3 linked regions of the Homo sapiens genome follow. The protein of the gene in region 1 purifies or fractionates together with the protein of each later gene. This does not show direct contact. Each region holds a gene or a part of one and is shown in the gene's direction. Other genes may lie near its edges.

Region 1 (8,023 bases):
GCCCCTACAATTTTTTTTTTGTTGTTGTTGTTTTGTTTTGAGACAGGGTCTCTTGCTCTGTCACCCAGGCTGGAGTGCAGTGGCACGACCACCGCTCCTGCAATCTTGACCTTCCAGGCTCAAGTGATCCTTTCACCTCAGCCTCCCAAGTGGCTGGGACTACAGGCATGTACCACCATGCCCGGCTAAGTTTTGTATTTTTTGTACAGATGGGTTTTTGCCATATTGCCCAGGCTGGTCTGGAACTCCTGGGCTCAGGTGATCTGCCTGCCTCATCCTCCCAAAGTGCTGGGATTACAGCTGTGAGCCACTGCACTTGGCTTATTTTTTAAACAAAACAAAAAATCCATCCCAAAAAATTTGTAGCAAATCATTTGACAATTCATTTCACCACCTATAAAATAAGGTGTTTGGCCTAGAATATCTCTAAGGTTCCTTATAATCTAATATGGCATATTTTGCTTTGTTTTTTTTTTTTGCATATTTTGCTTTGAATGATGAATTATTATTTGCTCAGTCACTAGACAATGATTTTAGTATTTACGCTCTGGCCATTGTGCCATCACTGGACATAGAGTGGGGAACAGGAAAAATATGATTGTTCATTCACCTAGTTTATTGTCAATTGGAGAAATCAAGGGTGGGCACTGCTTGCTATAACCAATCAACTGCACAAAAATGATGAACATGTACCTGTTAGGACAAAGACAGTTTTCTCTGCTCGAGACAGATAAGCTCCATTTTTGTTGTTGTTAAAGTAATAAGGCTTTCCCTGTTACTTTGCAAAACAATTGGAGATCTAACTCAGAACGCTTCAATGAAGTCCTGAATTCCCTGAAATCAGATGGCCGCTAGTCACTCCCAGGATGCTGGAATGGTATTAAAATATTGCCTCTTGGCCGGGTGCAGTGGCTCATGCTGTAATCCCAGCACTTTGGGAGCCCACGGCGGGTGGATCACTTGAGGTCGGTAGTTCAAGACCAGCCTGGGCAACATGGTGAAACCCCATCTCTACTAGAAATACAAAAATTAGCCAGGAGTGGTGGCACAGGCCTGTAATCCCAATGGGAGGCTAAAGCAGGAGAATCGCTTGAACCCGGGAGTCGGAGGCTGCAGCGAGCTGAGATCATGCCACTGCACTGCACTCCAGCCTGGGTGATAGCGTGAGACTCCATCTCAAAAATCAATCAATAAATAAAATTTTTAAAAATATTGTCTCTTGAATCAAATATTCCAGATGGAAGCATGAGGATTTGTACCAGTTATTATCCATTTCTAGGCCTTTTACCAACATAACTTAGGACCATATAGGTGAAAACGGAATGAGGTTCTAAGGAAGGCATGTACTTCCCTTTCATCTTTACAACAGTTCTGCAAAGAAAGTGACATTATCTTTTCTTCTTAGCTGAGAAAACAGGCTCAGAGAGTGAAGTAATTTCATAAAAGTCATGTTGCTAGAAAGTAGTGAAACGCAGTAAACCCAAGTTTGTCTGGCTCCAAATGATTTCATTATTTTCACCACAACATGCTTCTTCCAGTGAGAGAAAGCTTTGAAGCCGTGTTTACCAGAGTCTGTTCTGTGAAGCACTAATAAGGCAAGATGTTACACAAGTGCAAATGGATGCCATGGTCAAGCAACTCTGGGGAATGCCAAGCATATTAAAGCCAGTGAAGTCTTACAGAAAATACATTTTTATTTTTATTTAATCAGCTTTTCCCCCAAACTCATTTGATTACCAAATCTAGATTTTTCTTCATTTAACACTTATTAACATCTCTTGAAACCAATTAAAATAATCTGGTATTTGCTTAGTTAAATGTCTGAAAGAAAGAAGAAAAAGGATTGAATGAGAGCTTTAAATTGGAAATTCAGTTTGCAAAGCAACTAAAATAAAAAACTAGCAGTTATGGGGGAAGCATTTTAAAAAGATACAGTCTGTGCTCCCAGTGCAGCTGGGAGATGGAGATGGTGGGTGGATGGAGAGAGTCAGAGGCAAAAAGGGAAACAGACATGAAACAATTCAGACAGCATATTTCGCTCAAGTTTTTAGTGATTCATGTGGGCTGAAGCTGAAGAAAAGATTGGGAAGAGGAAAGAGGCTTGAGCTGGCCCCTGAGGGATGTTAAGATTTACTCAGGGAGAGAAGAGGCTGGGAGACACTGAAAGAGAAAACAGGTTTGGAGAGTTAAAAAACAAAACAAAACAAAACAAAGCTCAGGAACTATATAGGGAAATAAAATACGACAGGTAGAGTTGGTCTAGATTATGGACAATTACACAGGCCAGGCCAGTGTCTCACGTCTGTAATTCCAGCACTTTGGAAGGCTGAGTCCAGCAGATCACTTGAGCCCACAAGTTTGAGACCAGCCTGGGTAACATGAAGAAACCCTGTCTCTACAAAAAATGCAAAAATTAGCTAGGAGTGGTGGTATGCACCTGTAGTCCCAGCTATTTGGGAGGCTGAGGTAGGAGAACTGCTTGAGCCCAGGAGGTCAAGGCTACAGTGACCCGAGATTGTGCCACTGCACTCCAGCCTGGGTAACAGAGCAAGACCCTGTCTCAAAATAAGTAAATAATAAAAATATAGACAATGATACAGAAATCATTCTGTTGATAATGATGGAAAGGATTAAAATCTGAAAGACTATGTAGACAGTCAATCTGGATAATATGTGCAATTAAAATAGATTTTTGAATTTCACAACTGGAAGGGCTCTTAGAGCAAAGTTAATAAATATCTGTCTAATGAATCAGTCAATCCCTTGCTCTACACATCTGATAACTGAAGCCCAGAGAGGTCACTTGATTTTCCTAATGTCACACAGCTCACTAGCAGCACACCTGAGTTGATAATTCATGTCTTCTGACTATCGAGAGGTACAGTACTCATGAACTGGGCATAAAACAGTGCCAAAGAAAGTGTAGAATATGGAGCATGTGACATAAATCAGCACATCCAACAGAGGGTGGTTTCTGTTTGAAGAGATCTCTTTAAAATAATTAAGACAACGAACCCCAAACCTCCTACTGCAAAAGCAGTACTCTTTTTAACTGTTTCTATCACAACTTGGTCCAATACCTTGTGCAAACAAACATGATATGTATGGAGGTTGCTGTTACTAAAGAAACAAAAATTACAGAAAAAAGAAAATTACATTTCCAAAAGGCAGCATTATCTCTGAAAGAATATGGGCCAGGCATGATATCCATGCCTGTAGTCCCAGCTGCTCGGGAAGCTGAGGTGGGAGGATAGCTTGAGCCTAGAAGTTGGAGGCAGCAGTGGCACTGATGAGGCCATAGTGCCTGCGAATAGCCATGCACTCCAGTCTGAGCAACACAGCAAGACACAGTCTCTACAAAAATAAAAATAGGCTGGGCATGGTGGCTCATGTCTGTAATCCCAGCACGTTGAGAGGCTGAGGCAGGAGGATCTCTTGAGCCCAGGAGTAGAGACCAGCTTGGGTAACACAGTGAGACAGTCTCTACAAAAAATAAAAAATAAGGCCGGGCGCGGTGGCTCACGCCTATAATCCCAGCACTTTGGGAGGCTGAGGCAGGTGGATCACGAGGTCAAGAGTTCAAGACCATCCTGGCCAACATGGTGAAACCCTGTCTCTACTAAAAATACAAAAATCAGCTGGGCATGGTGGCGCACACCTGTAGTCCTAGCTACTCTGGAGGCTGAGACAGGAGAACCTCTTGAACCTGGGAGGCGGAGGTTGCAGTGAGCCGAGATTGTGCCACTGCACTCCAGCCTGGTGACAGAGCGAGACTCCGTCTCAAATAAATAAATAAATAAATAAATAAATAAAATAAAAAAATTAATGGGACGTAGTGGCGCATGGTGGTCCATGCCCATAGTCCCAGCTACTTGGAGGGCTGAGGTAGGAGGATCATTTGAGCCCACGAGTTCGAGGCTGCTGTGAGCCTTGATTACACCACTGCACTCCAGCCTGGGCGACAGAGCGAGACACTGTCTCAAAAATAAAAAAATTTAAAAAGCACATATGAAAGGTAACAGAAAAGTAGAAACTTTCCTGATAAAAGAGCATCTTCTTAAAATCCCTACTCTACCTCATGTTATAATCCTTTTACTTACTACTTAGTATTAAGGATACGTTCCCTATCTGTTTGAAACATGTTTGGCGCTGGGATTTGCTTCAAAGGAAGATACTAACAAGAAATAAGAAATTCCACAATGAAAACCCGCGGTGACCAAAAAGATAACAGTGATTTGGGGTAAAATTTTGACTAAAAAGATTAGGCTAGGCTGCGCGAGCATTTTTGGCCATGAAAGCACAGGAGGATGCTAGAAAAAACAGCACCGTGGAAAAAGCGTTTCCCCAGAAGTCTGGGAGCCCACCTTTGGCATGAAAAGCGGGAGCACAGGTTGTAGTGAGCCAAGATCGTGCCACAGCACTCCAGCCTGGGCAACAGAGCAAGACTCCGTCTCCAAAAAAAAGAAAAAGAAAAAAAGAAAAGTGGGAGCACAGAACAGAAAATACAGAATGCAAGCTGCCAATTATGGGAGAAAGATTATCACTCGGCCCCCAGCTGGCAGGGCCACACGATTACGTGACAAGAGAGTCCGCCTGCAATCGCAGCAGGCGGCTGGCAGAGCCCGGCGCGACCCCCAGCGAAGACTACCACTCCCAACTGCGCACGGGGCGCGCCGCCGGGGCCGCCAGGGCGGCTTCACGCGCAAGGCACTGTGGGACTCGTAGTCTTTCTCCCCACCAGCTCCTCGGAGGCGGAGAGACCCGATTTTTTTGTAAATGATCCGCCCTTCCAGGCCCTGCTTCTCTTTCCTCCCTTTCCCTCCCACCTCCTTCTTTCACCGAGAGTTTGAAAATTCCCGCGGAGCCGGCGCTAGAGCGCGGAACCATCGCGAGAACTCTGGTCCCTGCAGCCGCGATCTCCCGCCGGTTCTCCCCTCCCTCTCCGCCCTTTCCTCTGCTCCCTCCCTTCCGGGGCGTGTGGAACTCGGTTTTGTCGGCGCAGGGTAATGCGCAGAGCGGGGCCGGCGCTGTCCGAGGCGAGCAGGCAGCGTTGCAAGGGGAAGGACCCAGAAGCGCGGCGGGAGCAGCGACTGCGTTTTAGCCGCTGAGCGGTCTGCAGGCCTACAGCCCGCGAAGGCACTCTCGGGGGCGTGTGGCTCTGAGGTGGCCGGGGAGGTCGCAGGCGGCGGCCGGAGCGCAGAGGAGCGGCTTCAGCCGGGCGGAGGGGTGTGAGCCCGGCCCGTGGCGGCCACGTCTCCCGGGAGATGCTGTGACGGACCCGCACGGGAGGAGCTCGCGCCTGGCCTGGCGACCCGGTGGACTCGGCCCGCGGCGGCGCGCTCACCCGCCCCGTTCAGGTAGGGGGAAGGGAGGGAGGGGGTTGGGCCCGCGCGGCGGAGGGCGGGTCGCGCGGCCTGGACCCGCGGCGGCGGCGGCGGCGGCGGCGGCGGCGGCGGGGCTTCTGCCCCGCGAGCGCCGGGCCTAGGCCGGGCGTGCGCGGGGCCAACGGATGGGGCTCGAGGGGGCGAGCGGTGGCGGTGGCGGGTACGGCAGGCTCGCGGGCGCCGGGCTTCGTTACATAATCTCGGACCGGAGGAGCGGCGGCACATGGCGGCGGAGCGGCGCTGGTGGTTCGCGTCCTGCGCCGGCAGTCGGGTCCCTTTACGGACGGCCGGGGCCGCGACCCTTTCCCACTGTTCTCCCACGCGATGGACTCGTTGGCGGGCCTTTCCCCGAGGGAAGCGGCCGGCGTGCTGAGCCTGTCCTGTGTTGGCGTGTGTTCCACATGCGCTTGGGCCTGGCCACAGTGAGTAGTCCTGGCGGGGAAGAAGTTGGACTCGGGGCTCAGCCGTGAGGTTCCAGCTCACCCGATTGGTCAGATCAAGGAGATTTAAAATAAAAGCACATCTTGGGGTGCTTTGCCTTCCTTTTTCCTACCTGGGAAACAGGACGGTTTCTTTTGCCACTGGTTGACTGTTTTGGTTTGGGTGTTTTGTTTTGAGAGATGGGGAAATTTTGTTCTCAAAGCTTACGAGGTTCATACTATCTGTGTGCAAAGTTTTATGAGATGAGCGTTATTTTTATTTCCAAATCGTCAGTTGTAGAAATTTTTGGAAGAACTGGGTTCTTCATAGAACAAAACGTAAATCCTTTGGGGAAATCCTAAACGATATTTATTCTCAGAATATCCTAAAGAACCTGTAGATTTTAAGAACTGTCTTTGGCTGGGCGCAGTGGCTCCTGTCTGTAATCCCAGCACTTTGAGAGGCTGAGGCGGGAGGATCGCTTGAACCCAGGAGTTTGAGACCAGCCTGAGCAACATGGCGAGACCCCCCCTTTTTTTTTTTTAAACTGTTTTTTTGTGAGCTTTCACTGATAGAGTCTCTTAGGAGAGAAGAAATTAGAGTGGTTTACTTATTTCGGAGGATTTGACCTGGGATGACAAGCCCAGTTAAGGTTAATACTTGAAGGGATGTTTTAAGTGTGCCAAGCGCTATGGGAAGTCTACGTTGTCTCTGTACTGTGATTTTTGGATCCTGATCCTTCAGTAACATACTACCAAGCTGTCACGAGTTTGCAAACAACAATAATTATCTTGAAAAAATTTTTAAAACATCATGTCAACCGGGAATTGGTGGCGCCTCTAGTCGCGCGCCTACTTGGGAGGCTGAGGCGGGGGGAACGTTTGAGCTTCAGCCTCAAACTGAGAGTTCGAGGGTTGCAGTGAGCTAGGATCGCGCCGCTGCACTCAGCCTGTGTGACAGAGCGAGAACCTGTTGCTAAAATAAAATAAAAAAGATCGTTATACATCAGTTTTGAGACTTTTGTTTTCTTTTTATGCTTCTCCTTTTTCATAGGTACAGATACATCTTTTTTTTTTTTTGAGACGGGGTCTTGCTCTGTTGCCCAGGCTGGAGTGCAGTGGCACAATCTTGGCTCACTGCAACCTCCGTCTCCCAGGTTCAAGCGATTCTCCTGCCTCAGCCTCCTGAGTAGCTGGGATTACAGGCGCACGCCACCACACCCGGCTAATTTTTGTATTTTTAGTAGAGACGGGGTTTCACCATATTGGCCAGGCTGGTCTTGAACTTCTGACCTCGTGATCCGCCCGCCTTGGCCTCCCAGAGTGCTGGGATTACAGGCGTGAGCCACCGCGCCCGGCTGGTACAGATATATTTTAAGAGGAAGCAAAACGTTGTGTCTTTCACGCCTACCTTTAATATTTTCAGGGACTTTTCTTTCTTCCCAGAATGAAGTGTAACTTCCCTCGGTTAGCTCAAAGGTCTCTACAATAAGTATATGCTACTGTCTATCCTCATATGTTAACAAATTTTATGCTTTTGCTATTCCAGAATCGTCATCAATCCTGGACTCATTCTGTGGAAGAGATGTTTCCACTCTGATGTTTCTTTGCTCATGTCCTTCATCCTGGAGTGCCATCTTTCCTTTTTTAAATACTCAAATTTCAGGTCCTCCTTCTAAATCCAATGTTTTCACTGTATTTTTATTTTTATTTTTATTTTTTTGAGACGGAGTCTCACTTTGTAGCCCAAGCTAGAGTGCAATGGCGTGATCTTGGCTCACTGCAACCTTCGCCTCCAGGGCTCAAGCGATTCTTGTGCCTCAGCCTCCCGAGTAGCTGGGACTACAGGAACGCGCCGCCACACTCGGCTAATTTTTTGTATTTTAGTAGAGACGGGGTTTCACCATGTTGCCCAGGGTGATCTCGAACTCCTGAGCTCAGACGATCTGCCCACCTCGGCCAACCAAAGTGCTGGGATTACAGGCGTGAACCACCGCACCCAGCCCACTGTACTCTTTTATTTCCCCTTATCCCACTTTTTTACTGGGATCTCACAGCATATGTACCTCTATTGTAGTAGCATTTATTCTTTGTGTCTGATACTCTGATAATTGACTATATATCTCCTTTTCTAGATTGTAAACTCCTTAAAGTCAGGAAGAAGGTTATCTTCTTGACCTTGCATTCCTTTACTAACACGGTGTTTTAAAAGTAGTTTGT
Region 2 (2,634 bases), about 17 Mb from region 1:
TAGGGGATCATATAAGTGTTTGAAATACTTGTTTTCAAGCTTGGGAATACATGAAAACGTTTCAGATCTTATTAAACACTTTAAATAGAATGGCTATTTTGACCACTGGAGGGAAAAACACTCAGGCAGCCCCTGTAAAGGATATCACATTGTTAGACTTGAAAGTATGTTTGACAGATGGAAGGAATTTAGAAGAGAGTATTTCCCAACAGCAAAGTGACGTTATATTTAAATAGAAGCACAGGTGCTTTTGTCATCAATCATCAGAATTCATTTGAGCATTTTATAATAATTGAAAAATGACTTCTTGTGTTTGTGTTTATAGGCATTCAGCTCAGTGAGTACTTACCGGAGGTGAAAGACCTGCTACAAGCGGATCAGCTTGGAAGCTTAAAGTCCAATCCTTACTTCGAGTTTGTTTTGAAAGCAAATTATGAATATTATGTTCAGGGACAAATATAACTTTTTCTAAAAATGGCCATTGTTTATGAAATCTGTATAAGTGTGTCCTTATACAAATTTTAGGCCATAAACAAGTGTAAGTTTGTACAATTTCATAACATGTATAGCTGAGTTTTTATACTTTATATGTAGGAAGCTAATATAAAATAGTTATGTAACTGTGATTTTGGTTTTCAGTTATGTGACTTGTTTTTTCCACCTGAAATGTGTCAGTTGTTGTTCCTGTACTCGGTGCCCTTTCTTTTTACTCTCACGTGGTCCCAGGTTCTGGAGTTCTTGTCCTGGTTCTAGCTGCTCACATGTACAAATCACTTCTAGGCCTCAGTTTCTGCGACTATGAAAATTACTAGATTGCACTAGCTTGTCTCTAAAATTGCTGTGACTCCAGATACTTTGCACTGAAGAGAATCTAGGGTGTTTGATATCTGTTTCAGTTAGGGCTAATGGGAAATGTCTAGTAAGATAAATGTCAACTTTTGCTGACTTATTATGAGATGAAAAACCAAAGGAGAGTGGGCCTAACTCATGTGAGCTTGATAACTGATGAACTCATTGGGAGCATTTTAAACTTTTCTACATAAATAATAAATGAGCACTAATGAAAGTATTTTAGTGAATGAAACGTTTATGTGGTTTTCTAACCTATCTAGAAATTACTGTTGATGTTTAGTTCTAATCTTTCAGTGTGGGGATTCAGCCAGCCTCATGTATTTTCAGAATGACTCATGAATCTTTACCACAGTCTGCCTAGCTAGTCAAAAGCATGAATGATACTAGAAACCATTATAGGTTTTCCTAATATGGCAATTGATGTGACTGAAAGGTACTGTACTCTCAGAGCTTTGTCCTGACCAGTGTCATCACTCACTCAATGTTTATCTGGGTTTTAAATAAAGGCCAGAGGTTGGACAGGGAGTTGCTGGCATGTCCGCGGCTTGGCCCAGTAGAATGCCCACTAACCATCTTGCTCCAGCAGCTGAAAAGGTCAGAAGTTAAACATGGTGAAGAGTCCGGTTCCTGGATTCACAGAGCCCAGCATCAGGCCGTCTCCCCCGCAGGCTGCAAGGCCAGCCCTTGAGTATGTTTGGAAGAGCAGGTTAATGGAGCTGTTTGTAAATCAAAGGGAAGAAATTAGCAGCCTGTTCTTTTTCTCTTTGCAGCTTGTATGTTAGGACAGCATTAGGGTCTGGGTTAGGAACATGTTGGAAGGTACTAAGAGAAGTTAGGAAGAGCAGCTTGTCAGATGGCCAGTAAGAAACCGCTGAGTACTTGTATCGTAAGATGAGGCTTTGCTTTTACGTGGAGGTCAGCTGTCAGTGTTCACGTCTCACCTGTAGGACCCTGTCGGGTGATAATGTGCTGCGAGACACACAGGCTCCCATCTCCCTCCCGTGCTGCTGCAAACCTGGTGATCCCTGGTGTATGGGACAGTACCGCAGGAAAGCCCATCTGATCATGCCCCAGAACCCACTGATCGCGTGGACGTAGAACGACTGCTCTTACCGTGTGAAGTAGAGTCATCCTGTTCAAGGGAAGAAAAAGCTCCCTCTTTTAATCCTGTTTCTCTCTAAGTTAGTAGCTATTACACCCAAATGGTTGAGTTTTTAAAAATTATTTTAACAGTAAAAATGAAATTAAGACCTAGGATTTTGAATAATTTTTTCTCTAGAATTTTAAAAATTGGTTTCACAACGTAGTCTTCATCAACGAGTTATTAATGGTTTTTATATAAATCAAGTAGCTGATAAGTATACAGATGCTGTGTTGACATTTCTGTGGAAAGAGATACTTTACTGACTTGGAAAAGGTTCGTGATCACACCTGTCTATAAGTGCTGCCCTGAGAGTCCCAGCTTGGGACCTTGACAGAATACAAGAGTAAAGTGTCGTGTGCGATCCTGAGCAGAGGGGAGTGTACGCAGGCATGGAGACTGGCGCGTCTGGAGGATTTGTGGACAGAATGGTGTCAAGGATTGCAGCAGACCTGGAGATAGACAGTAAAAACTTGCTGAACTCCTGAGTGAGGTAAAGGCTACTGACGCCTCTCTTTGAGGGCTTTCATTTTTAATGATTGAACTGTGTTTCTTTTTTTACTTTAGGGGCTGAATCGTAGTTTTCCTACCATCACCCACCTACATCCTACACACCTGGACATTTTGAGGCTAACTACAAA
Region 3 (2,563 bases), on another chromosome or scaffold:
TCCATAGGATACGATACTTAATTTTACGCTTCCTTATTTCTTAGGTGGTCCACAATTAGTGAAAATCTGTTTGCAACCACTGGTTATCCTGGCAAAATGGCAAGCCAGTTTCAAATTCATCATTTAGGACACCCTCAGGTAATGTGGAAATGTTTTGTAACATACGTGCTTTTTTTTTTTTTAATTTGTGTTTTTGACTTTTCCACTCATAGCCCCAAATTTGTAATTTGTTGACTGAAGACATTTACGTTTGTTATCTGCTTAAATTGCAAGAAAAGGTGGTTCATTTGTTTTTGTTTTTTGTGTGGTTTTTTTTTGATGTTTACATTACCAGTGACAACAGGTTTTTTTGGCCAGTATTCATATAAGAAGCTTTTTATTCTGTTGCTTTTATATTTTCTTCTTTATTTAAATACATTAATTTTGCTTGTTTGGTTGGTGTAGACTGCAAAAATGGAGTCTGGACTGTACCAGTTATTCATAGATGGATTGTATCCCATGTTTCAGCTGCGTATCAATAATGTGTATTTCACCTGTAAGGGAGCATATTTTTAAATTTTGTTTATGCTACAAAGATAAATCATCAATGCATTTCATATTTTTGAAAGTCATTTTTATTTATTAATTTTGGGGACTTACTGTGCTTCTTTAATTCTTCACATATTTTATAGCCCATCCTCATGGGTTCTGTAGCCGTTGGATCTGGACTGTCCTGGCATCGAACTCTCCCTCTGTGTGTAATTGGAGGAGACCACAAGCTGTTGTTTTGGGTGACTGAAGTATAAAGTGTTTTCTGTACCTTAGATTCACAAACTTTGTATTTTTAGTACATATTTTGAAGAATTTCTATAGTACATATTTTGAAGAATTTTTATATCAAATATACCGTATACTTTAGAAAATGTCTCAGTTGCTTTTATTAAATAAAATGTTGATGGTTTGAAAAATTATTTTTCTACTCTGTTCTCTGTGTGTGTATATATATATATTTTTAATCTTACAAAATCATATTGACTCAGCAGCTCACCTCCAGAGAAGAGATGACTAAGGAAAAATAATGCTTTTGAGTTTATCAAAAAAGGAGTATTTGAAGTGTATCCTGTTTTCTATACTTTGAGTATATGCTGTTTTTCTAATTCTCAGGGACACATTTATCAAAAGAGAAAAAAAGGCCAGGTACAATGGCTCACACTTGTAATCCCAACACTTTGGGAGGCTGAAGGGAGTGGATCACTTGAGGTGAGGAGTTCAAGACCAACCTGGCCAACATGGTGAAACCCTATCTCTACTAAAAAAATAAAAATAAAAAAAATTAGCCAAGCATGGTTTGGAAGACTGAGGCAGGAGAATCACTTGAACCTGGAAGGCAGAGGTTACAGTGAGCCAAGATCGTGCCACTTCACTGCAGCCTGGGCGACAGAGCGAGACTATCTCAAAAGAAAAAAAATCCAAGGAGAAAAAAATATCTTAGGGTATTCTGGAAGTGGTTGTTGAGTATATATATGTGTATGTGTACTCAATTTAATGTAAAAAATTGTTTTCAGTTTCTTAAATATGTGATTGATTATATTGCTCAACCCTGTTTATTATACGCAGATTCCTTTGGACGAGGTGTTCTAACAGTCTTAGAACATCTGATATATGGGATCAAAAGTTACCTTGAAAAATGACTTCTAGTGTATACCTTTAACAGCCTCCTTTTTGTGAATTTTCACTGTTCTTACCAAGAAACTTAAGTGTTTTTGAGATGGGACCTGTTGGCAATGGAACTGTGTTCACCCTCTCAAAGATCATTAAAATCAACGTTATCTAAGACAGCTGTATCACATTTTTGGGATACATCATGGTACAGTCAGAAGCATATAAAATTATGGTTCTGCTTGTCAGTCACATACAGAATCCAATACATTTTGACAAACTGCCCATTCCTGCAAGTTAATGCCCTTTTTGAAGCTTCATTTCCTCTTGTAAAGTACAGATAGGAATCATTATTTTGTGGAGTTGCTGTAAAGATTAAATAAAGGTGAATGAAAATACCTAGTATGTGTCTGTCACGTGGTTCAGAGATGTATAGAAATTATTTATTTCAGAGATGAGTAGGTCTTATTTTTGAGGTTTTAGAGATTTATGTTTAATGCCAGTAAATATTTTTTACTCCAGTTTTCTATTCTTAAGGTGTCTTAAAATAATTGTAGAATCAAGAACATTATATTTTTAAGAGATAGGAGAATGTTCCAGGTAATTAAAAGAAAGAATTCAGTGAAATTTTATAACCATGTAGATGTTTGGGTTCAACTTTTACATGCTTTAAAGTACAGATGAAAAATTTTATAGCAATTTCCTAGTCAATTTTTTAATACAGTTAAATATTATAACCAAATGATATAAATTGTTTTGTTTACCCCTTCATAAGAAGATTTTGAACTAACAAAGGAAAAAGCAAAGAGCAAGGAATTTTGACATGGTTCTCTTTAAGAATCTCTGTGATGGGGCAAGGATTCCTAAAAGCATCAGGATAGCCAAAGGGCTATCAATAGTGACTCTTACAAGAATTTGTCATTTC

The links. Proteins that work in one complex are often made in the same cells at the same time.
Region 2: the proteins of AHCTF1 (region 1) and NUP133 purify together in Homo sapiens (affinity purification with western blotting; 3 studies listed by BioGRID, with this or other methods). This does not show direct contact.
Region 3: the proteins of AHCTF1 (region 1) and NUP37 purify together in Homo sapiens (affinity purification with western blotting; 2 studies listed by BioGRID and IntAct, with this or other methods). This does not show direct contact.

The regions. Positions count from the first base shown.
Region 1 is NC_000001.11:246,928,912-246,936,934, reverse strand, and holds the start of AHCTF1 (protein ELYS), read left to right. Parts: upstream 1-4,986; 5' UTR 4,987-5,357; intron 5,358-5,576; exon of another isoform or gene 5,577-5,607; coding exon of another isoform or gene 5,608-5,627; exon of another isoform or gene 5,628-5,708; coding exon of another isoform or gene 5,709-5,806; intron 5,807-8,023. UniProt on the Homo sapiens protein: Required for the assembly of a functional nuclear pore complex (NPC) on the surface of chromosomes as nuclei form at the end of mitosis. May initiate NPC assembly by binding to chromatin and recruiting the Nup107-160 subcomplex of the NPC.
Region 2 is NC_000001.11:229,439,732-229,442,365, reverse strand, and holds the end of NUP133 (nuclear pore complex protein Nup133), read left to right. Parts: intron 1-325; coding exon 326-462; 3' UTR 463-2,107; downstream 2,108-2,634. UniProt on the Homo sapiens protein: Involved in poly(A)+ RNA transport. Involved in nephrogenesis.
Region 3 is NC_000012.12:102,072,576-102,075,138, reverse strand, and holds the end of NUP37 (nucleoporin Nup37), read left to right. Parts: intron 1-44; coding exon 45-138; intron 139-671; coding exon 672-785; 3' UTR 786-2,036; downstream 2,037-2,563. UniProt on the Homo sapiens protein: Component of the Nup107-160 subcomplex of the nuclear pore complex (NPC). The Nup107-160 subcomplex is required for the assembly of a functional NPC.